Homo sapiens: one gene and its partner. Each later gene encodes a partner of the first gene's protein in a complex. Each region holds a gene or a part of one and is shown in the gene's direction. Other genes may lie near its edges.

Region 1 (11,030 bases):
TCACTACAACCTCCACCTCCCGCCTCCCTGGTTCAAGCGATTCTTGTGCCTTAGCCTCCCAAGTAGCTGGGACTACAGGCATGAGCCACCAAGCGTGGCTAATTTTTGTATTTCTAGTAGAGACGGGGTTTCACCATGTTGGCCAGGCTAGTCTCAAACTCCTGGCTTCAAGTGATCCACCCACCTCGGCCTCCCAAAGTGCTAGGATTACAGGCAGGAGCCAATGCGCCCCGCTAGGATCCCTTTATTTTTCTTGCCCAGTTGCTCTGTTGAGAACTGGTAGCACAACATTGAGTGGAAGTAATGAGAGCAGACATCCCTGTATTTTACCTGATCCTAGCATATAAGGAGGATTCTTACCCTACCTTTCTTAGTTATGTGCAGCTCTTGAAGCATTAATGTGGATGGCTCCATCTCCTTTGTAAAGAGGACAACAAGCTCTTTTTACTTGTATGCTTCCCTCAGTGGTTCTCCACGTCTCAGCATTTAAGGTAAGTTTGGTAGATTACCCAATTAACTTGTCTATGCTTAATATCTGTATCTTATTTGAAGGCTACCATTGCTATAAAAGGCTTATCAACTTTTGCATGCACTTTCACTTAGCCATGCTTAGAATTTTTGTGGCCCAAGTTAGAGCTCTGCTGAAATGTTTCAACTTATCTTTGTTCCCTTACATATTTTTATGTTTTTATGTATTTTAATGTCTTTACAGATGGTTTTTGTGCCTAGACAGGATTATTCAAAGACCACATGTTTTACAGTTTAAATAAACTTTATTGAGGGTATTATTTGTATCCATAATAAAATGTACCTCTTTTTAGTGCATTTTTCCATGAGGTGTAGAAAATGTACGGACCTATGTAATCACCAAAAAGTTTCCCGTGCCTTACTGCAATCCTCCCACCCCAACACCAAGAAACCATTGATTTACTTTCTGTCACTATAGACTTACCTATTCTAGAACTTCATAGGAATGAGTTAATACAATCTTTAGTGTCTGGCTTCTTCCACTCAGTGGTGCTTTTTATATTTACTCATGTTTTTGTGTATATAAGCATTTTGTTCCTTTTTGTTGCTGAGAAGTATTCTATTGTATGGACATATCACATTTATTATTATTTCACCTGTTGGTGAACATTTGGGTTGTTTTTAGTTTAGAGCTATCATGAATAAAGCTGCTCCCAACATTCATATGCAAGTCCTTATATACATGTGTTTTAATTTTTGGAGGGTAAATGCCTAGAAGTGGAATTACTAGGTCATATGGTAAATGTGTGTGTAACTTCATTAAAAACAAAAACAAAAAACAAAACTTGCCAAACTGTTTTTCAAAGTGGGTGTACAATTTTATAATCCTACCAGTGAAGTATGAATTATTTCCAATTAGTCCACAATCTTGCCAGCATGTGGTAGTGTCTGTGTATGTGTGTTTTGTTTTGTTTTAATTTTACCAGCCTAGAGGTCACATAGTGGTATCTTATTATGGTTTTAATTTGAATTGCACTGGTGACGAATGATGTTGAGCAATCCATCTGTTTATGTGCTTACTGGTCATTTATATATCTTCTCTTTCTTTTGAGAAAACGTCCCAGGCTGGAGTGCAGTGGCACCATCTCGGCTCACTGCAACCTCCGCCTCCTGCATTCAAGCGATTCTCCTGCCTCAGCCTCTTGATATATATCTTCTTTTAAGAAGTATGTGTTCAAATCTATTGCCATGTTTTTACTGCTTATTTGTCTTCCCATTATTGAGCTGTAACAGATCCCTATATATTCTGAATGTAGGTCCTTTGTTAGAAGTATGTATTGAGCATACTTTCTTCCAGTCACAGACTGGGAGAAATTTATTTATTCATTTTCATTTATTTTTAAGCAATGGTTTTCAAAGAGCAGAGATTTTTAGTTTTTATAATTTATTCTATTTATTTTTATTTTCTTGAGATGATTCTGTTACCAGTGGAAGAGATCCAAGTTACCCTGAATTATTAGCGGCGATCTGTACACATCTGCAGCAACTTCGTCCTTGCCTCCTCAGAAGAATTCGACTTCATCTCAGGATTTTATAGGCTTACCTCTTTCCCATGATTCTTCCCTCAGGGTGGGCTGCCTGCCTAGTGCCTGCCCCCTTACCCTTGGGAATTGAGCACACACAGCGTGTTTAGGAAGTCATATGCATGCCTATCTGAGACTTTCTTCCCTTTTTCTGGAAGAGCCTGCCTGGAATGTCTTATTTTGCCATTTTGTCTCTTAGTGCACATGCCCAGGCAGTTTCTTCTCCCGGGCATCTGGATTCATTTAACGCTTTAATGTTAACAGCTGTGGATCACCAGGAAATGGCCTCTCCCTGGCACCCTGGTTAGGCTGCCACATTATCGTTTTTAGAGTGGTGGTGTGATAATTGTCCAACCATCACCTGACATTCCTAGTGGGTGGGTAGAGAGCCCTCTCCTGCCTCACTCATGCCTATCTAACTACTTATAACAATACTTAATATCAAGTAAAATCCACCCACTAGAACATACATCCCTTCACAGGGGATGCAAGACTGCTAGCTTCCCCCATTTTTAAAAAATTATTTTTTAATTGACAAGTGAAACTTGTATACATTGATGGTGTACAACATATTTTGATATAGGTATACAATGTAGAATGGCTAAATCAAGCTAATTAACATATGCATCACCTCACATATTTGTGTATGTGTGTTGTGAGAAGCCAAATTTATTAACTTTTTCATTTATAGCTAGTGATTTCTGTGTTCTGCCTAAGAAATATTTGCCTACCTCAAGGTTGCAAAGATTATCTCTAATGTCTTCTTCCAGGAGTTCCTTGGTAAATTCTAAGTAATTTTATGGCATGCTGTAAAGGTCAAGTTCCTTTTTCTTTCAAAAAAAAATTTTTTTTTTCTTTCTAAAAATCTGGGATTTTGGAAGGAGAAAGAATCTGGATGCAGCAAAGGGAAGCACTTGCCTTACCGCCTGGCTGTGACATACATGGAGCATTGTATGTCATGCAATGATATACACTGAGATGGGCAAAACTTTCGGTTAAAGCAAAAAGAAACATCTGGGAATACAGTGGTGCTTGCTGAATCCAGATGATTCCATGCTACATGGTGAAAGGGCTCAAGCGGGCAGCAAGGGTGACCACTGGACCAAATTAAGGGCTATAAGGAGCAGTGATGTGCAGGGTAGGTTACTCACAGGGGTTATTATATTATCTGAAATTTACATTAAAATACTTGGCAATTAAAGTGTGATATAGTTATGCGTAAATTAGTTTTTACAATCTAAATAGTTAAGATTTGATGTGTTGTAATATACGGCACATTAGCATAAGGGATGTCAGATATTTTTCACTGGTGAAATGAGGAGTACTTAATATATGCAGATGGGCTTGAGAACTGTGCTGATACTTCCCACCCTTCATGGACAGAGTATAAGAATTAGTGAACATTGGATATGACTAGGTGACCTCTTTGAATCTCAATTTCTTTCTCTGTAAAATAGGAAAAATAATGTCTATCTTCTAAGGGATATTGAGAGGAATGATAAGACACGCCCAACTCTAGGCTTGGCATTTAATGACTGTCCCACCCAGGTTAATTTGTTCCTTTTCCTTCTACCACTTTTTTTACTGTAGTACTTCGAGCTCCTGATTTTATGTCACTTACCACATTCTCTTTTGAGTTCCCATCTCAACTCTCTTGCTAGACACAGTCTTGAAGCTTAACTAATGCTGGCCTCCCTCTGAAGGTCCCATGGCAAAGCTCATCAAATCTTAGTGTACCCAATCACCTGAGATGCTTTTTAAAAATGCAGATTACAAAGCCTTACCTCAAAAGACTGATTCTGTATGTCTGTCTGGGTGTGGTCCAGGAATGTGCAGTATCATCGAGCACCTTTGGCTATGATGAATTAGGTGGTCAAGAACCACTCAGAGACACGTGGGATGTGAGAAAAACTTGTTTCAGAAATCCTACAATTACATTTTCTTCAAATTCGAGTTGAGACCCAAACAAAGACAGCTGACCCAGTTCTCCAGTCCCATGTGGAGGCTGGACTCAGCTGACCCAGGCCTGAAGCAGGCCCATCACCCTTGTTACATGTTTCCGCCCTTCTGGGTGACATAAAAATATCATTTTTGCTGGTCCGGCAGCAATCTCCCCTTTTCTGGTAACCCCCTGGATTTTCCCTACTCTTAGTGCAAAGCTTCAAGCAAGGCTAATCCCTTTCCCCACCATGAAAGTGAAGGTCAGCCTCTCAGACATTTATAAGAACAAGGAAGAGGAACACTCTTCCTGTAGAGATACTAAACTAGTAAGAACCTAAGTCTGGAGCTGCCTACTCCACTCTTACATAGAGTGCCTACTTGAGAATGAAACTAAGAGAGATGGTGCCCTTTGACATCATTAGGCCCCTGGGGTTCTTGCTAATCTGAGTTACTAATTCTCTTTTTGCTTTACGTCAGTTTGAGCTAGAATTTCTCCTTGCAACTGAAAATTCTGACTAACACACAGAGCCTCTACATTTCTCTGCACAAATGAACGCTTCCTCTCTGGGCAGTCCCAAATAATTCCCCTGTACCTCACTCTCCTCAAAGAACGTCACCTCCTTGCCACAAATGCAGGGAACCTGCTCCTTGGGACCAGGTGCAGCCCACTTTTCTTTCTTCCTTGCAGGGAAAAAAAAGGCCTTTTCCTTTGAGGCTTATGTTACGGAGCTCACTGTTCATTACTACTGTCTTCATTACTTAATTCATTTAAGACTGACACCTGTTTTATAATCTCTCCTTCCACCCTAGCTCTGCCATCATTCCAGATGGATCTCATCATTCATTTAATAGCCTATAATCATAGTTCATGTAGCATTCACTACACACCAGGCACGGTTCTAAGCATTTTACATATATTTTAGTTCACTCAACCCTTATAATAGCACAAGCTATTATTACGCCCACTTCTCACATAAGGAAACTGAGGCACAAAAAGGCTATTTAGACTTGCCTAGAGTTACCCAGTCATGAAGTGGTAGAGTAGGGATGAGGACAACGGAGTCAAATTGCAGAGTCCAGACTGGCCTCCCAGTTCCTTATAACTGTACCATCCTCCACATCTACTCTGCATTGGTGCTGTGGAGGTGGGAGAGAGGGAGTACCTCCTTCACTGAGTCACTGGACATTTGGAAGGTCTTTGGAGAGAAGTCAGCTGAGGATGGCCTGCATTGCCCCTTCCTGGAACTCAATGATTTGTTGTTATCACCCATGCAAATTCACCAACAAACAGATAAAAGTCAGGAAGCTGGGATGCAGCTGAACTGAAAACCCAGCAGCAGAAAAGCAGGTTATAGATTCTGCTCTGGGTGCTCCATACAGCTCCTTCCTCTCTGCCCCAATAACCTCCCTCTCTTTGGGAACATTGCTGCATTCAGGGCAGTCTGTCTTCCCTCCCTATGGGCTGTCTTTAGAATGTGTCCCTTGCCTATATCCATATTCATGCTCCGTGCTCCTCAGCCCCCTAGAAACTTTGCACAATAGATTCAAAACCTCTGGTTTCCTCCCTTCCTCTGTCTGAAAGAGTGAAAGAAGGAAGCCAGGGATTTCAGGGGGCAGCCAGGCAGCAGTATCACCACCCCTAGGCAATCACACCTAGTTGCAGCTTCATCGGGAACAGCTCAGCTCTGAAAACACAGACCTGGGACTCTCCCTCCCAGCCTTCTAGCTCTCGTTCCTGTGAGCAGCTTTTCAACCTCCACTTCCAGCCGCTGACAGGCCCTCCTGGCTCCACAAGGCCAGCTAACATACCCACCTTCCACAATCCCCAGCCCTGCCAGACATAACCTGCAACAGGCATTCCTGGATCAATGCAAACTCCGACTTCTGTTCCAGGAGTCTGCCTCTGTTAGAAGAATCTCACACAAGTGTGCGTGCTGTGCCATTGTAAATGCTGTATAAGGTGGCCAGGCCCAATCAGTCCCTGCAAGACACCGAACAGTAAGAACTATCTATGGAGTGTTTACTATGTGCCAAGCACCGTCCTTTGCAAGCACTATTAACCCTCAAAATACCACCACCGTGAGATTGAGACCATCATGATTCCCGTTCTACAGAAGGAAACACTGAGACTTCAGGAGGTCAGGACCTTTCCAGGGTCACAACTGCGTAACTAAGTTGCAGAGCTCAACCCAGTGGCACTTCCATCTCACACGCAGCTGTCTGATGGTCAAGAGCCCAACCAGTCCCCCGGTCGTTTCTACCGCACTAAACCGCTGTGTCAAGCTGGAGCAGCGGGCTCAGCAGTGAAAATGAAAGAACAGAAGGAGGTTACAGAGAAGAGAACGGTCACGGTAAATTCCGGAGAGGAGGCAAGGACGTACACACCGAGATACTTCCCGGTCACCGTTACTCAGCACTTTGTGGGGTTCACGTGGCTGGGGGGGCCGGGGCGTGGCGGCCCTTTTCGAGGAATCCAGCCCTGCCTGGGCGGTCCCCATCTCGAGCGTGGGCGTGTTCGATTCAGGCCCGGCGGACGCATCCCCAGGTGACCCGGGAGGGACCTTGTGTCTCTGGGGGTGACTGTCCGTCTCCCCGCCTCCCACCGTCACGCGCAGTGCTGATCCCCACTTCCAGCTGGAGTGCGAGCTGGGCTTGGGGTTACAGGAGCCGAAGCCCTGGAGCTCCGCCCCACGCTTGCGCCAGCCCCGCCCCGATCCCGGCTCGCAGGCTCCAGGGGCGGGGCGTGGCCGGGGCGCAGCGACGGGCGCGGAGGTCCGGCCGGGCGCGCGCGCCCCCGCCACACGCACGCCGGGCGTGCCAGTTTATAAAGGGAGAGAGCAAGCAGCGAGTCTTGAAGCTCTGTTTGGTGCTTTGGATCCATTTCCATCGGTCCTTACAGCCGCTCGTCAGACTCCAGCAGCCAAGATGGTGAAGCAGATCGAGAGCAAGGTACGCGCTACCGGGGAAGGCCAGGGTGCCGGCGCCGCGCGCGGCCTCTGTAACTGGGGAAGGCGGTGGCGGGAGGTGGGGAAGGCGGTGGCGGGAGGTGCGGAGGCCGCCCCTCCGCATCGCCAGGGGAAAGGGACGCGGCGTCTCGGCCTGGGACTGCGGGAAGCAGCGGCCTGGGCGCGCCCGAGGCGGTGGAGCCTGCCCTGGAGGAAGGGAGGAGAAGGACGAGGGTCCCCTGGAGGGCGGAGTGGCGGTGCCCAGCGTTTCTCGCACCCTGTTCCTCGGGGGATTGCACGCACGCGGGGAGCGTCCGGGGGATGTGAGAGCGCAGACAGCGTGAGGAGTCCCCACGCTGCGCCTCCTGCACCCTCCCGTCCGGGCAGCCCCGACTGGAGGAAGATGAGGGAATGGAAGGGGTCCGCCCTTGGCCCCCCATCTGTATCCAGATTCAGGCCCCAGGCAAGGATAGGGAGGGCCCTTGCAGAAGGCACGGGTCGGTGGCCGCCGCTGCCTTTCCGTATGTGAAGTGATCCACCCGCAGCGGGGGTAGTGATCTCCCTTTGGGAGCGGGTCTAGGCCGGAGACCCCCGCCTGCCTCCACCCATGCCCGACCCCAAAGGTGACGCGTGCTGTATCCGCACTAAGGGGGCGGATTGCGGCTGGAGACCCCCTGGCACGTGCAGGTCTGTCCAGGAGGCCCGAGGGCCCCAGGTGACCGCGAGGAAGTGAGGTCCGGGCCGCGCCCACGGGACTCCTGTGGCGCAGGGCGCGTTTCCGGCAGCAGTGGCTTTGGAATGACTGAGTCCCCAAGGTTGGGCCCGGGGGCCTCGGCTGCCCTGCCCGTCCATGATTCACCCTCAGTCGGTGGGTTTTGCTGGAGCCAGGGTTCCTCCTGGGAGCAGCCGCGCCCTGCTGCCTGCTCGCCGACCTATCGGTATCCCGATCGTTGTTTTGTCCTCTTAAAAATGCCCAAGGCGAAACAGCCTTCCCATGTTTGAAAGTTATTGCAAGCCTAAAACCTTGTAGACTGGGAAACCCAGAGCCTAACGCGCAGTGTCTAGTCCAATGTAGCCACTCCAGAAATATTTGTTAAATGCAGCGTCAGAAAAGTGAGTGGAGGAAATTGATACTGCTCGAACGGTAGAAGACCCCTCGCCAGCGCCTACCCTGCGATTACCCCTCCCTACCTGCGGGAAGCAGAGGAGGGCGGGTCCTCGCCCGCCTCGGGTGCCCTGACCTGTTTGGTGCCGGGTGGGCTTCGGAAACAGAAGTGTGTCTGCAATGTGTCCCCGATCCTTTTGTTCCTTTGATTATTATTGACTCTCAGTGTTTTTTCCTCATATGTTGATTGCCACTGTCATCTTTTATCTTCCTCTCAATCAGTTTTTTCTTAGTGGGATTCTCATTTTAGCAGCCCTCATGTGTTGAAAAGATCCTTAGTAGTGAATTGTCTTTCATATACTTTTTTTCCAAGCACCTATTGTGTGACAAATTATTAATCCATTCCTGGGGAAGGGAGTGGGGCTGGGATTCTGTTCTCCAGGGTCTGGCAACCTCAGTATAACCCAACTGCTAAGAACCCCCTCCACTGAGCCAGAAGACCTTTGAGTGGTCTATGTTAGTTGTCCCAAAATCCAGACACTACAAACAAAGTTGATTAGGATTTCTGGAGCACACAGTTTAGTCCTCCCAGTTGTCAGAGCATGTCAGAGCACCTTCCTCCTCTACCAGTGACAAAGGTGTACAAGGGTGACAGGAACTTTAAAAAAAGCACTACAGCCTGGGGCCCAAAGGCCCTGATAATCAATTAATCCTCAAAATAACAATCCAAAGTCATTGATCGAAAGTTACACTAATTTGATTGTTATTTGTCTGTTAGTTTGTTTTTCGAGATGGAGTTTTGCCCTTGTTGCCCTGGCTGGAGTACAGTGGCGCGATCTCGGCCCACTGCAACCTCCACCTCCTGAGTTCAAGCGATTCTCTTGCCTCAGCCTCCTGCACAGCTGGGATTACAGGCATGCGCTGCCAAAATGCCCAGTAATTTTGTATTTTTAGTAGAGATGGGGTTTCACCATGTTGGTCAGGTTTGTCTCGAACTCCTGACTTCAGGTGATCCACCAACCTCAGGCTCCCAAAGTGCTAGGATTACAGGCGTGAACCACCACGCCCAGCCTGTTATTTGTAAATGTTGAATACATGTTACATTTTCATCCTAATGGGCTAAATTTGCACCATTTGCCATTCAGAACAATTCTGTTTCTGAGGTACTCTGTTGGTGCTTTAGGGCCAACTGGGATCTATTTCAGAGAGGAATGGAATAATTGACTGTAAATGTGATGAGGAAGAAATAAACACTTTTAAAAAAAATGACACCTACCATTTATTGAACTCCCATCTACAAGGCACTTGGCTAAGTACTTCAGAAACCACTCACACTTATTACCCTCAGAGTAGGTATGTTGAGGCAACGAGATCTTAGACTCTTGCTCCTATTTACCCCAACTACACTGTTCTGCTTCCCCCAGATTATTGGTGTCAGTGATGGAGACATTTATTAATCCTGTTAGTTTCTGGGAGCTAGAAATTGTGATTTCTTCTTAGTAATACAATCTTGAATAATTTTCAAGCTGATACCCGTTTAGAAGTATCAGAAGAGAATTTGTACATGAAGCCTGCACATACGTGGGGTGTAACTCATGTTCAGTTAGGCTAAAAGTTATTGTTGCGTGCCTCTTTTCAGAATTTTAGGTACTTGTGCTTAAATTTGATTCAGAACTGTTTTGGAAAAGCCTTGAGTATGTTTGAAATACCTTCCCTCTTGAAAGTAATCTCAAGTTTTTAATAAGGGTTAATCATGTTAAAAAAACAAAAATGTCTATTCAACCAGACATTGGCATTTCTTGACCTTTTTTCCTGTCTTACCTGGATCTTGCAATAAAGGATGCCTGGTTTAACTTTCTTGAAAATCACATTAGGGAAGGCTTTGAATGAAATTGATCTGGAACAATAAGTGATGATTTGGAAAAACAATTGCTATACTTCTATGTACCCTGCTGCAGCTCTCCCCATGTCTCCACCTCTAGAGGTGGGGTTCAGGGATTTGCATAACTAAAAAATTTATGAAAGTGTTGTCCTACCTTTCTCAGGAACACCATTTGTGAATTATTTTCCCAAAAACGAGGTAGAAATTAGAAATCTAGAGAAGTAACTATTAGTACATGAGGTCATATTAGTGTTTTCTTGTTGGGTTTTTTTTTGTTTATTTGGTTTTTTATCTTATGGTTTTTTATTTATTTGATTTCTTTCTTTACGAGACCTCTTGTGGCGGTGGGGGGCGGGGAATGTTCATTTTTTTTTAAACCTATTTGACCAGCATTGTTTCCTTGAAGAAAACCTAGATTTCAGATACAGATGTTTATGTTTTGATTTATCTTAATTGCTCTGGTTTGGTTTTTGGGTTTGGTCAGCACTAACGTACTAATGTGGTTAAAATGAGTCCTTTGTTTTGGGAGGCCAAGGCGGGTGGATCACTTCAGGTCAGGAGTTCAAGACCAGCCTGGTCAACATGGCGAAACTCTGTCTCTACTAAAAATACAAAAATTAGCTGGGACTGGTGGCAGAGGCTTGTAATCCCAGCTACTCAGGAGGCTGAGGCAAGAGAATCACTTGAACCCCGGAGGCAAAGGTTACTGTGAGCCGAGATCAGGCCTTTGCACTCCAGCCTGGGCAACAAGTGAAACTCCGTCTCAAAAACAAAACAAAACAAAAATGAGTCCTTGGTAACTAGAATATTCGGTTCCCAGGGTTACAGTATCTAGATAGTAAATAATTCAGGGAAGTTAGTGGTAAGAGATTTCTTGATCATTTCTACTGAGAATTTTATTTAACAAGCATTCCTTATGAAAAATAATATCTATGAAAAATTTCCTTCATGAGGAACGAAAACTTTCATTTAATGAATGACAAGGGTATAGTTTTAAAATAAAGGGCAAAAATCAAAGGTTGGTAAACGTGTGATCTCAGCTCTGGAAACCCCATTATGCTTATGTCAACGGTGATGTCTGAGTGTTGAGGTTTGGGAAAGGTGAG
Region 2 (11,001 bases), on another chromosome or scaffold:
ATGTTATTGTTAATATAATCATTATATTATTAAACATATAATTTATACATAAACAATATATTATATATAAATGTATATGATATATAATATACAATAGTTATAATATATAATAAATTATATATTGACTTCTATATAATATAGAATTATATAACTTATAAATTATATATAGCTTTATATATAAATCAATAATTATATATTGATGTGTACAATTATTATTTTATATTATTATTAATAATTATATAATTGGTATTATATAAATATTAATTTTATATTGCAATAGTTATAAAGTAAATATCATATAACATTATTAATATAATAAATATAGTATATTAATATTAATAACTTGTATTTATTAACAATATATTAATAAATGACATAATTTCACATTTCTTTCAGATTTCTGTAAAAGCTTATCAGGAGTTATATATATGCAAAACCATATTTATCTTATTAAAGAGGCATGTATAAGTGTCAGACCATCACTTATGAATAGATTTGACAGCCAGATATACAACCTTTCAGAAAACAGAAGCAAACCTCCTCCATAAAAACAAGTAATTGGCAGCTGTCTCAATGATGTCCAGTAACTAGCCTTATTTCACTCAGAACAGTTTTGTCGGCTTCATATAGCATGACCAATCACCCTGGTTTACTAGAGCCTGAGGGTTTCCTGCGCAAGGGACTCTCTGTGCTAAAAGCAAGATAGTCCTGGATCAACCGGGATGAGTTAAGTCTCTATTTCCATGCCTTCATAGAAATCATTAAAAGATATCTCTCTGTTATGGGCTGAATAATGTCACCCACCCTGAAATTCCTATGTTGAAGTCCTAACCCCCAGTACCTCAGAATGTAACTGGATTTTGAGATAGGGTTTTTAAAGAGGTATATAAGTTAAAATGAGGACAGTGGGATGGGCCCTAATCTAATATGACTGATGTCCTTATAAGACGAAATGATTTGGACGTGGACACAGAGGGACAACCACATGAGGACAGGGAGAAGATGGCCATCTGCAAGCCAAGGAGAGAAGCCCTCAAGTAAACCAATGCTGCCAACACATTGCTGTTGAACTTCCAGTCTCTAGAACGATAAAAAATATTTCTGTTGTTTAAGCCACCCAGTCTGAGATATTTTGTTTTGGCAGCCCTAACAAACACATTCTCTAAGGGTTTATTCTCATTTTTGGTTTAGTGTATTTCAGCTGATGATTATAGCCTAATCCTCCCCCTCTTCTTGGGGCCTCTCTTCTCTGTACTCTTCCTCCTCATATCTCACACAGGCAGATTTGTTCCTGCCTCCTCACCTACATTACGAGCTCCGCACAGTCTCCTTTCTTCTGGCTCCGGCTCCCTCATTAATCTTTCTGTTATTAACGCTATTAACTCGTTAAACTATCTCTCCACCTTTCCAAACTTCCATTAACTCTGGCACTCCATAAGTGTTAGTCAAATAAATGAAGAATCACACTAACTCCTCTTTCCTTCCCTCTCACTCCAAACTCTTGGTGAGATTCTTTTGCACTTATGCCCTCGTTTCCCCATTTCCCACTCACTTGTCAGTCTCCTCATTCTTGGTTTTCCTCATTATATTGAAACACATCTGAAAAAGTCATGTAAGACCACAGCCACTGCGTATCAGTGCTATTTGAGAGTTAATAAAGTTCCCTTTTCCTCCAAGACAGCGAGCAGAGTGAACAGAAGAAAGACTGGTTTCTGCCCTTGGCTGCACAGCCATGCCCCGAGGCCGGGCTTAGGATTTTATAATTCACAAAGTCAACTGTCTCTTCCCCTCTCCATCCTTTAGGAACTGTCTGCAGTATCTGACACTGTTGAGAGCTCTCATACCCTTTAAACTCTCTCTTCTCTGGCTTTCTGAGCTTTCCTCCCACTTTTGATGGCACTGCAGGAGTTTTTAAGCATCTCTCTCTCATACCAACCCCAGAAATAAAGTCATTCCTCGAATTCCTGTACTTAGCCCCTTGTCTCCTAACTCTTTGACCACTAATGTTTTAGAAACACTCTCCTGACAACTATCGCATCTTTGCAGTTGTTTCCATTTCCAACGCCATGTCTCTCTGAGCAGCAGCCTTGAGTTTTCAATTGCATATTTATTAGTCATTTCCATATGGACATCTCACTAAATCTGTCATACTAAACATGTCTAAAATATGTATGTTTACATGTTACATGTATGTTTGGTATGTGGGAATGCATTACATTCCCACAGATTTTTTCCCAGTTACAGTGTTACTATTCTAATCACTCAGACTAGAACACTCAGAGCTATCTATGAGTCTTCCTCTCACTCAAACTGCATATATAATCTATAAACAGGTCCTGTTGACCTCATCTTCTAAAAATCTCTTACATGCTCCTTTTTATATCATTGGATAATAGTTTAGTGTGGTGGTTAATATCATGCACACTGGAGCCAAATCTGTTAGGTTCAAATCCTGACTCTCCTTCTATTTACTAATTATGAAACCTTAGGAAAATTATTCAACTTTTCATCTGTAAATATGGGGATTATAATGGTGATCCACTTTATATGACTGACAACCAAATAAGTGAATACGTGTATAGCAGGTATTAACCATATGCTTAGCCGACCTATTTCAACCTCCTAACCAACCAGAAGAACTGTAGTTCCCTGCTCTCTTGCATCTAAGTGGGGCCATGGAATGTGGGCAGAAGTGTTGTGTCACCTTTACTCAGAGGCAATTAAAAAGAAGACATACTTTTCCTATGTTCTCATTGCCAATGAACACACTACACAGATCTCAACCTCAGAATTCTCTCCACACTGGTATTTCCAAAATAGCTTCATGAGAAGGGAAATTTGTGTAGTTTCAATGATTTAGTGATGCTATGGTTTGGGTATTTGTCTCCTCTAAACCTCATGTTGAAATGTGACCCCAATTTTGGAGGTGGGGCCTAATGGGAGATGTTTCGGTCATGGAGGTGGATCCCTCACAAATAGATTGATGCTATTCCCTGCAAGGAGGAGAGGATGAGTGAGTTCTCACTGCATTAGTTCCTATGAGAGCTGGTTGCTAAAAAGTTTGGCATCTCTCCCCTCTCTCTCGCCATACGATCTCTCTGCACACACCACCCGCCTTTGCCTTCCATTGAGTGGAAGCAGCCTGAGGCCCTCACCAGACGCATATGCTGGTGCCATGCTTCTTGTACAGTCTGAAGACTGTGAGCCTAATAAACCTCTTTTCATTATAAGCTACCTAGTCTTGTGTATTCTGCCATAGCAACACAAATGAACTAAGACAAGTGACAAACACAAAATAACTTGTCTTTTAGACAATATTGATGTCTGAAATTCCACATTGAGGCATTTTTTTCCTCTTCGTAGCCTGATAATGGCAAATACCTTCTGACACCTTAGGATGGATGAATTTGTAAGAGATATTCCTGGAAGCAGGTTTGTACAGTGTAGAGAAAATGTTGGGTAACAAAGCAGGAATGGAGGAGGGTTAATCAGCAAGCCAAAAAGCTTTTATAGTTTTGCCTGCTGTGCTGCATGGAATTACATCCCCCCAAAACATATGTTCAAGTCCTAACCACAGGTACCTGTGAACATGAGTTTATTTGGAACTAGGATCTTTGCAAATGTTATCAAGTTAAGATGAGGTAATACTGGATTGGGGTGGGCTCTAAATCCAATGACTGGTGTCTTCATAAAAGAAAGGTGAGGGAGAGTTGAATATAGCGACACAAAGGAAACACGGGGAAGGAGACCATGTGACAATGTAGGCACAGAATGGAGTGTTGCAGCCAAGCCAAGAATGGCAAGGATTGCTGGAGCTACCAGAAGCTAGGAGGAGGCAAAGGATTCTTCCCTAGAGCCTTCAGAGGGATCATGGCCTTAATGGCACCTTGAGTTCAGAATTTTAGGCTCCAGGACTGTGACAGAATAAATTCCCGTTGTAAGCTGTTCAGTCGGTGGTAAATTTTTACAGCAGCCCCAGGAAAATATGCCTGCTCAACACCCTACCCTGAATTTTAAGTTCATTTTATGGAATCATTTTGAGTTTGGAGTTTGATTTAATCCTTTTCAGTAATTAACGCTCTTCATTTTTTACTCCCAAATATGTCACACTGGCTCTACTCTTATAACAATTGTATTTATCTATCTTTTGGTAATGGGGCTGCCACCCCTTGCAGAATGAAAAGTAGAGTGTGTATGCTCACACCTCCCTCCCTCCCTCCCTCTCTCCCTCCCTCTCTCTTTCTTTCTTTCTCAGAGTATCGCTCTGTCTCGCCCAGGCTGGAGTGCAGTGGCGCAATCTTGGCTCACTGCAACCTCTGCCTCCAGGGTTCAAGCGATTCTCCTGCCTCAGCCTCTGGAGTAGCTGGGATTACAGGCGCCCGCCACCACGCCCGGCTAATTTTTTTGTATTGTTAGTAGAGATGGGGTTTCACCATATTGGTCAGGCTGGTCTCAAACTCCTGACCTCAGGGGATCCACCCGCCTTGGCCTCCCAAAGTGCTGGGATTACAGGTGTGAGCCACCGCACCCGGCTCACAGAATTTCTTAAAAAGTCATTGTGTTCAGTCTTTATGGATCCTCTAAATTCCAGCTGCTCAGCCTCCCGGAGCTAAATGAGATCACTTAAAGGTCGACTGTTGGGGCCTCCAAGGTCGCCTCGGAGACTCACCTCATAGGCAATCAAATGGATCGCTGGGTTTTTGTGTGTGTGGGTTTTTTTTGTTTATTTTTTTTTTCCAGAAAAACACTCCACCAAGAAGGTTTTTATAACCTACTGGAGGAGGAGGATGGAGAGTGGGCACGAAAGGACTAGGATGAACATGCCATAAGCAATCTAAATGCCACTGCAATATTGCCTGGTGAGGACCTGATTACTGATGTTTTAAAGCTAAGCTTTCAGTTGTCACTCCACCCAGTAGTGAAACAATGAGCTCTAAAATATATATTTCGGCTCAAGCTTTCTTATGTGGGGAGGTAATCCACCCGAAGGTATCCCCAGCCTGTACCTAATACAGTGCCCAGCACTAAAGCAGCTCAGATGCCAGTGAATGGTGGCCACTGGGAGGCCTGTCAGTGGGTGCCAGTAGCGGTCTCTTCAGAGAAAAAGAAAACTCCCCTCTGCCAGATCAGTATTTTATGAGCTGTGAACCAAAACCATTGCTACCACCATCACTATAATTCTATCCACAGTAATTATCATAAAGGCCTAACAATGCCTTGTAGATGAACATTCTGAGTAACTGCTCTATAACCAGGAGATTTAAGACCGCACCAAAAACCAGTAGAGGGTTATACTTTACTGGGCACAAGTCGTTTATGATAACGAAATTGTAGTTTAATCTGTGAAGAGATGTGAATGTAACTGAGACACGCTTAAATGGAATATACAGATGAGCTTTATTTTTATATCTGGCATGCTTGGATCCATGCCGACCCTCCAGCTGCTCGGGCCTGCCCTTAGGGGCTATGGACCGCATGACTCTATCAGCGGCACTGCCACCGCCGCCGCCTCCGTGCTGCCTGCGTTCCCCGACCATTGATTGGGCCCGGCAGGCGCTTCCTGGGGGCTTCCCTACCGGCTCCAGCCCTTGGGATTCGGGAGCGCCCTGCTAGGAAGCCAGAGCCCCGCAGGGGCCGCGGCGTCCAGGCCGCCTAACGCGCGCCCCTCGCCCGGCGCCCCGAAGCGGCCCCGAGGGGCGGGAGCCGAGGCGAGCGGCAAGGCCGGGCCGGGGGCGCACAGCGCCCCTAGAAGTGCGGGCTTCCCCCACCCCCGGCAGCGACCCTACCTCCCGCCCCCGCTGCGTGCGCGCGTGTGTCCGTCTGTCTGTATGCTCTCTCGACGTCAGTGGGAATTTCCAGCCAGGAAGTGAGAGAGTGAGCGAGACAGAAAGAGAGAGAAGTGCACCAGCGAGCCGGGGCAGGAAGAGGAGGTTTCGCCACCGGAGCGGCCCGGCGACGCGCTGACAGCTTCCCCTGCCCTTCCCGTCGGTCGGGCCGCCAGCCGCCGCAGCCCTCGGCCTGCACGCAGCCACCGGCCCCGCTCCCGGAGCCCAGCGCCGCCGAGGCCGCAGCCGCCCGGCCAGTAAGGCGGCGCCGCCGCCCGGCCACCGCGCGCCCTGCGCTTCCCTCCGCCCGCGCTGCGGCCATGGCGCGGCGCTGACTGGCCTGGCCCGGCCCCGCCGCGCTCCCGCTCGCCCCGACCCGCACTCGGGCCCGCCCGGGCTCCGGCCTGCCGCCGCCTCTTCCTTCTCCAGCCGGCAGGCCCGCGCCGCTTAGGAGGGAGAGCCCACCCGCGCCAGGAGGCCGAACGCGGACTCGCCACCCGGGTAAGCCAAACTCGGGCGAGTGGGGGCCCGGCAGGGGACGCGTGGCCCAAGTCCTGCCGCCCAGCCCTCCGCACCCCCTCCAGCCCCACTCGGACTTCCTCATTCCTGCGCTAACCGCTGGGCTAGACCGTGGGAGGAGGTTGACAGTAGCTGAGAGGCACATGGGATTAGCGACAGCGGGGAAAGACACATCCGGACCTCGCAGGGGCTAGTCGGCCGAAGGGCCGCGGCCGCCCGGCGGTCATTTCTCTTCACGTCCCTCCGCGGGGCGGGAACGCGAACCGGAGGGGAACTCTTACAAACTTTTAAAATCCCCAACCCCAGCCCCACCTGGGGGATGGTGAGAAGGTTGGAGTGCGCTGCGGCGCGGAGGAGAGAGGGAAGGTGGTTGGTGCAGTGCAGAACCAGATTTCACCTAAGGGCGTTCCATGAAATGAAAGCAGAAGTGCTTGTCAGTCCTCTTGGCTGGGAAAGCCCTCCCCAGCTCCCCAGAATTGAATAGGAGAGTCTATTCATCCCTCTCCTACTTCTAAAAGAAACCTGGCTCGCTCTCTGTCTCTCTCTCTCTCCCCCCTCCCCCCCTCCGTGCGCGCGCGCGCGCGCACACACACACACACACACACACACACACACACACACGATATAGTCACCTGCTATAGGACTTGATTCTGATCCTCCGGGGCCTGGCATTTGAGAGAGAAAATAAATTACCTACCTGGATACTTAGAGCACTTTTTAGACTTGATTATGTAAAACTCTTGGACAGTGCCACCATGCATTATGCATGACCGCTGAAACAAAAATAATGTAAAAACAAGGCCTATCCTAAATGCAAGTTTTTCTATGGTCCTTAAAAACAGACACCAGGGAATGTTTGCCCTGACTTGCTGGTTTATCCTGAAACTCAAATGGGACTTAATGATACAGGATTTAATTATCAAGATTGACATGTTCATGGACTTTGTTAAGTAGAGGTTTTCAGCATTACAGTTTATGAAATAACCATATTTAACTCAAAGATTTTTTTATAAAGCTCATAATCTGAAAAAATGCTTATGGTATTACTAAAACATTTAATAGCTCTGGCATCAAAATATTCTACATACTGGTGATCTTTTAGTAAATAGTAAAGGTTAGGGTCAAGATATTCAATAATTTTTTTCTAGCAGAATCCCACAACTGAATATTGTCAAGCAGTTTAAACTGCATTCGTGTTTGTTAAAACTTTAAAAGGGAAACTTAAAACTAAAGTATGTTGTTTTTCTGATTTTAATATTGTGCTTTCTAGAGATGAATCCTTTTACTGTTTGAGGCACTATAGGAATTATGTATTTAAATGTATGTATTTAAATTTGAAGCAATGTACTTTTTTGAGTTTATAAACTTGGGAAGACAGGAAATAAAAAGATTTGTTTCCTGTAGAATTTTACATTCATGATTTAATTGAATTGCTAAAATGGAAAGAACATGTACGATTAATGGAGACTTGGAATCTGAGATTATTCATCCATATTGATACACCTGCAATTCCTAAATGCCCTCCCCTGCTTGTTTAGATAAAATGTCTTCCTGGGCTGCAGCCTACTGGACAAACTTGAACACAAAGGAACACACGTTATATGTACATTTAATACTGGAACCGAAAAGCTGCTTGCAGTGAAAAGCAAACCACTTCTAAACTCTTTGAGACTTTTTAAAGAAGGTAGTATAATCCTTTTAGGGGTTGGTGGTGATGTGAAAATCTATTATCTTTTTGCTGAAATTTCATTCTTATGTTAGGCATTGGCACTCACTTGTGCTGAGTAAATGCCCGTGTTTTTCAAACCCAGATAGTAAATACTGGGGGTATACATACAAAAATAGTCCTTCCCCTTTGTAAGCATTGCTTTGATCTTTGCACTTCCTTTTTACTCTACCTCTTAAACAAGATCTGTGTTGATTGAGTTGATTAAAGCACAATTAATCTGAAATAGGCAGAATTTTAGATTTAGTGATTATATTCCTTACATTTCTGTTGTTACTGTTCCTGGAAACAAATTGAAGTAGTTTGAGAAACTAATATTTATGCAGGTTGTTTTAACTACACTTTTAGACTTGCAGATAATTGATTAAGTAAGTTACTACCTTGACTTTCAGGGATTGCTCATTGTGGTAGATACGAGGTCTAGATAGGGAATTGGCAGCTACATGAATGTTGGACTATCATTCCATCAGCAAGACCTTATTTTTACCTAATTTATGAGAGGTATTTCTCTGTTCAGAAGAGGTGAAAGTTCTGGCTTCTGGGGGGAAGTGGTTACTTCATAACCTTCAATTGGTTTGAACTTGGGAGAAGTAAGAAAAGTAGTCGATATTTTCAAACAGTAAAATAATTGTATCTGAGTTGCTGTATGGATTTTTGATGAAGTACTCAAAATGTCATCTTTTGCATCTTCGGGTCTTAGTAGATGTGCTATTCTGAGTATAGAATTGACTGCAGTAGGAAGTGTATCTGGAAATGCACAGTACTGTTGTATAACCAATAGAGTAAATTCTCAGATTATGCTCTTCTGGTCCACAGATTGATCAGAAATCACATTAACAGGAATGGATGTCTATGCAAAATTTCTCATTAATTTTCTTACTTTTAGTAGGAAGTTTGTTTTATTCGGTTGGTCTGTTGGTTTTCTGTTTACAAGGTGAATTGTCTACAGTAGTGGGATTGTTATATTAGAAGAGAAGGAGAAGGAAAAATAGAAGTTAGTGCTAGAGGATATGTTAAGATGTTCTGCTCCTACATCTACATTTGTGTCTAATCAGCATTAATTGATGACTACGTCTTGGTAAACAGTAGACCATACTGGAGCAATTTACTCTGCTTTTTGGGAATTAGTTCTCATTTGCACTCTTGCACCTCCCATAAATACTGAACTCACTTGTAGTGTTCTTAGAGGTCAGCAATAAACCATCAAGAGCATATGATCTCTCTTTGAATTTTGTCACTACTTTGGAGACAGACAGTTTGGAAGAACTGAAGGTACTCAGCCTCAGGGAGAAAGGTTTGAACGTTTTGGCATAGTCCTGCAAGTCAGTTTGGCTCCTTGACTGTGAATTTTTTTAATCAAAAAAGATTAATATTTGAAACCACATAATTTGGACAGTTAATAGTTCTGGTAACATAACCAAGCCTTTTATCTTTGTAGTATTTCATTAATTAGTATCCAGTGCCTCACTTTTAGAAGAAAAAAAGAGAAAAAAGTAGTAACATTCTTTTAATGATGATGAAATTGCTTCATACCTTTGGTCTCTGCTGTATTAGGGGTTGTTCCTGGGTGCAAATTAATATACTGTCTTTTACATTTCCGGAGGTTGTTGACCTGGCCTTGAAGATCAGCCAACAGTTTAGAAAATAAGTTGTGCAAATTGCATTGCTACACCTCAAATAATTTAAAGCCTGACAGTTCTGTACAGAATAAGAGTCACATAAGATGTGATTTGTTAAAGATTATAGAAATCTCAGAAGATAGATTATGGATGAAAATATTTGTTTAATTTAGAGTACTAATAATAAAAATAGTGCATTTTACATTTTAAAAAGAAAACAATTTTTATTGTGTCATATTTTCTGTAGTAACAAACAGAATTAATTATCAGTAATACAAATTTCATCTGCTTTAATTTATTGCCTGTTTTTGAAATTAGAATAATGATATATTTGGTTTAATTATCCATTACAAATTGCCTTATTATTTTTCATTCATCTTTCACCATTAATCCAGAAACCTTAAAATAGCTTTTATTTTGACCCATGCCTTCAGTAGATATCAACAGACTTGAGTTCATCTATGGATCCTATTAGTTTAAACTGTGACAAATTTTGACTGCTTAAGCTTTAGAAAAGAATTTATTCTTTAAAATAGCCAAAATTATAAAAAATGAAATAAAGAAAAAGCTGTTTGAGAGAATCAAATACTCTAGTTTAACTAAAAATAAATAATATCTAATCAATACTGACGAAAGAAATATCTGATGCTTAGCATTGTACTTGTTGGTACATAGTAAGCAATCATTAACTGTTAAATGAATGAATGATATGAAGTTGTTGCAAAATTTTTTTTTAAATGGACAGCCATCTTCTATAAGGAACAAAAATTACATTATTTTGCTTTGCCTTCTGGAAAGAAAGGAGCACAAAATAGTCCTTGTGTCTTAGATATTATGGAAATCTTATCTAAAGACCACTTGAAGTTTACTAGAACAAATAATTTATTAAAAAGTATCTGGCGCCTTCCAAAAGGGGAACATTTCATTCTGAAAGAGGCATTTATGAACTAGAAAAAAAATGCCTTTTAGTTTCAAAGTTTTAGAGGCACCAGAGCAAGATTATAAAGTAATTGGAATGATAAAAGGTGCTTGTAAAATTGAAAAATGTAATTTTTTGGTGAAGTTAGAATTTCTGTACACTCCATTGAAACTGTAATATCAAATACTAATACCTCCAAAAAAGAAACAATGCTACAAGCACTGCTTGGTAATCTAAGAATTGTTAACACTTATCTAAATTAATCAACCAAAAAGTTAAAACAAAATATGTTATTTTGTTATGTTACCTCTAGAATTAAACACCTATCACCCATAAATCTGTGACTGTTAAAAGTTACTAGATGGCAAACCTCAGGAACAAGCAGGCAGTTAG

What was found.
Region 2: the proteins of TXN (region 1) and NFKB1 are in contact, whole or in part, in an NMR structure (PDB 1MDI), measured with the Homo sapiens proteins. Residues at the interface, in NP_003320.2 of Homo sapiens: Thr30, Trp31, Cys32, Pro34, Met37, Ile38, Asp58, Val59, Asp60, Asp61, Gln63, Ala66, Ser67, Val71, Lys72, Pro75, Ser90, Gly91, Ala92; in NP_001158884.1 of Homo sapiens: Arg56, Phe57, Arg58, Tyr59, Val60, Cys61, Glu62, Gly63, Pro64.

The regions. Positions count from the first base shown.
Region 1 is NC_000009.12:110,252,323-110,263,352, reverse strand, and holds the start of TXN (thioredoxin), read left to right. Parts: upstream 1-6,845; 5' UTR 6,846-6,917; coding exon 6,918-6,941; intron 6,942-11,030. UniProt on the Homo sapiens protein: Participates in various redox reactions through the reversible oxidation of its active center dithiol to a disulfide and catalyzes dithiol-disulfide exchange reactions.
Region 2 is NC_000004.12:102,495,463-102,506,463, forward strand, and holds the start of NFKB1 (nuclear factor NF-kappa-B p105 subunit), read left to right. Parts: upstream 1-5,896; 5' UTR 5,897-6,326; intron 6,327-6,471; exon of another isoform or gene 6,472-6,710; intron 6,711-6,976; exon of another isoform or gene 6,977-7,024; intron 7,025-11,001.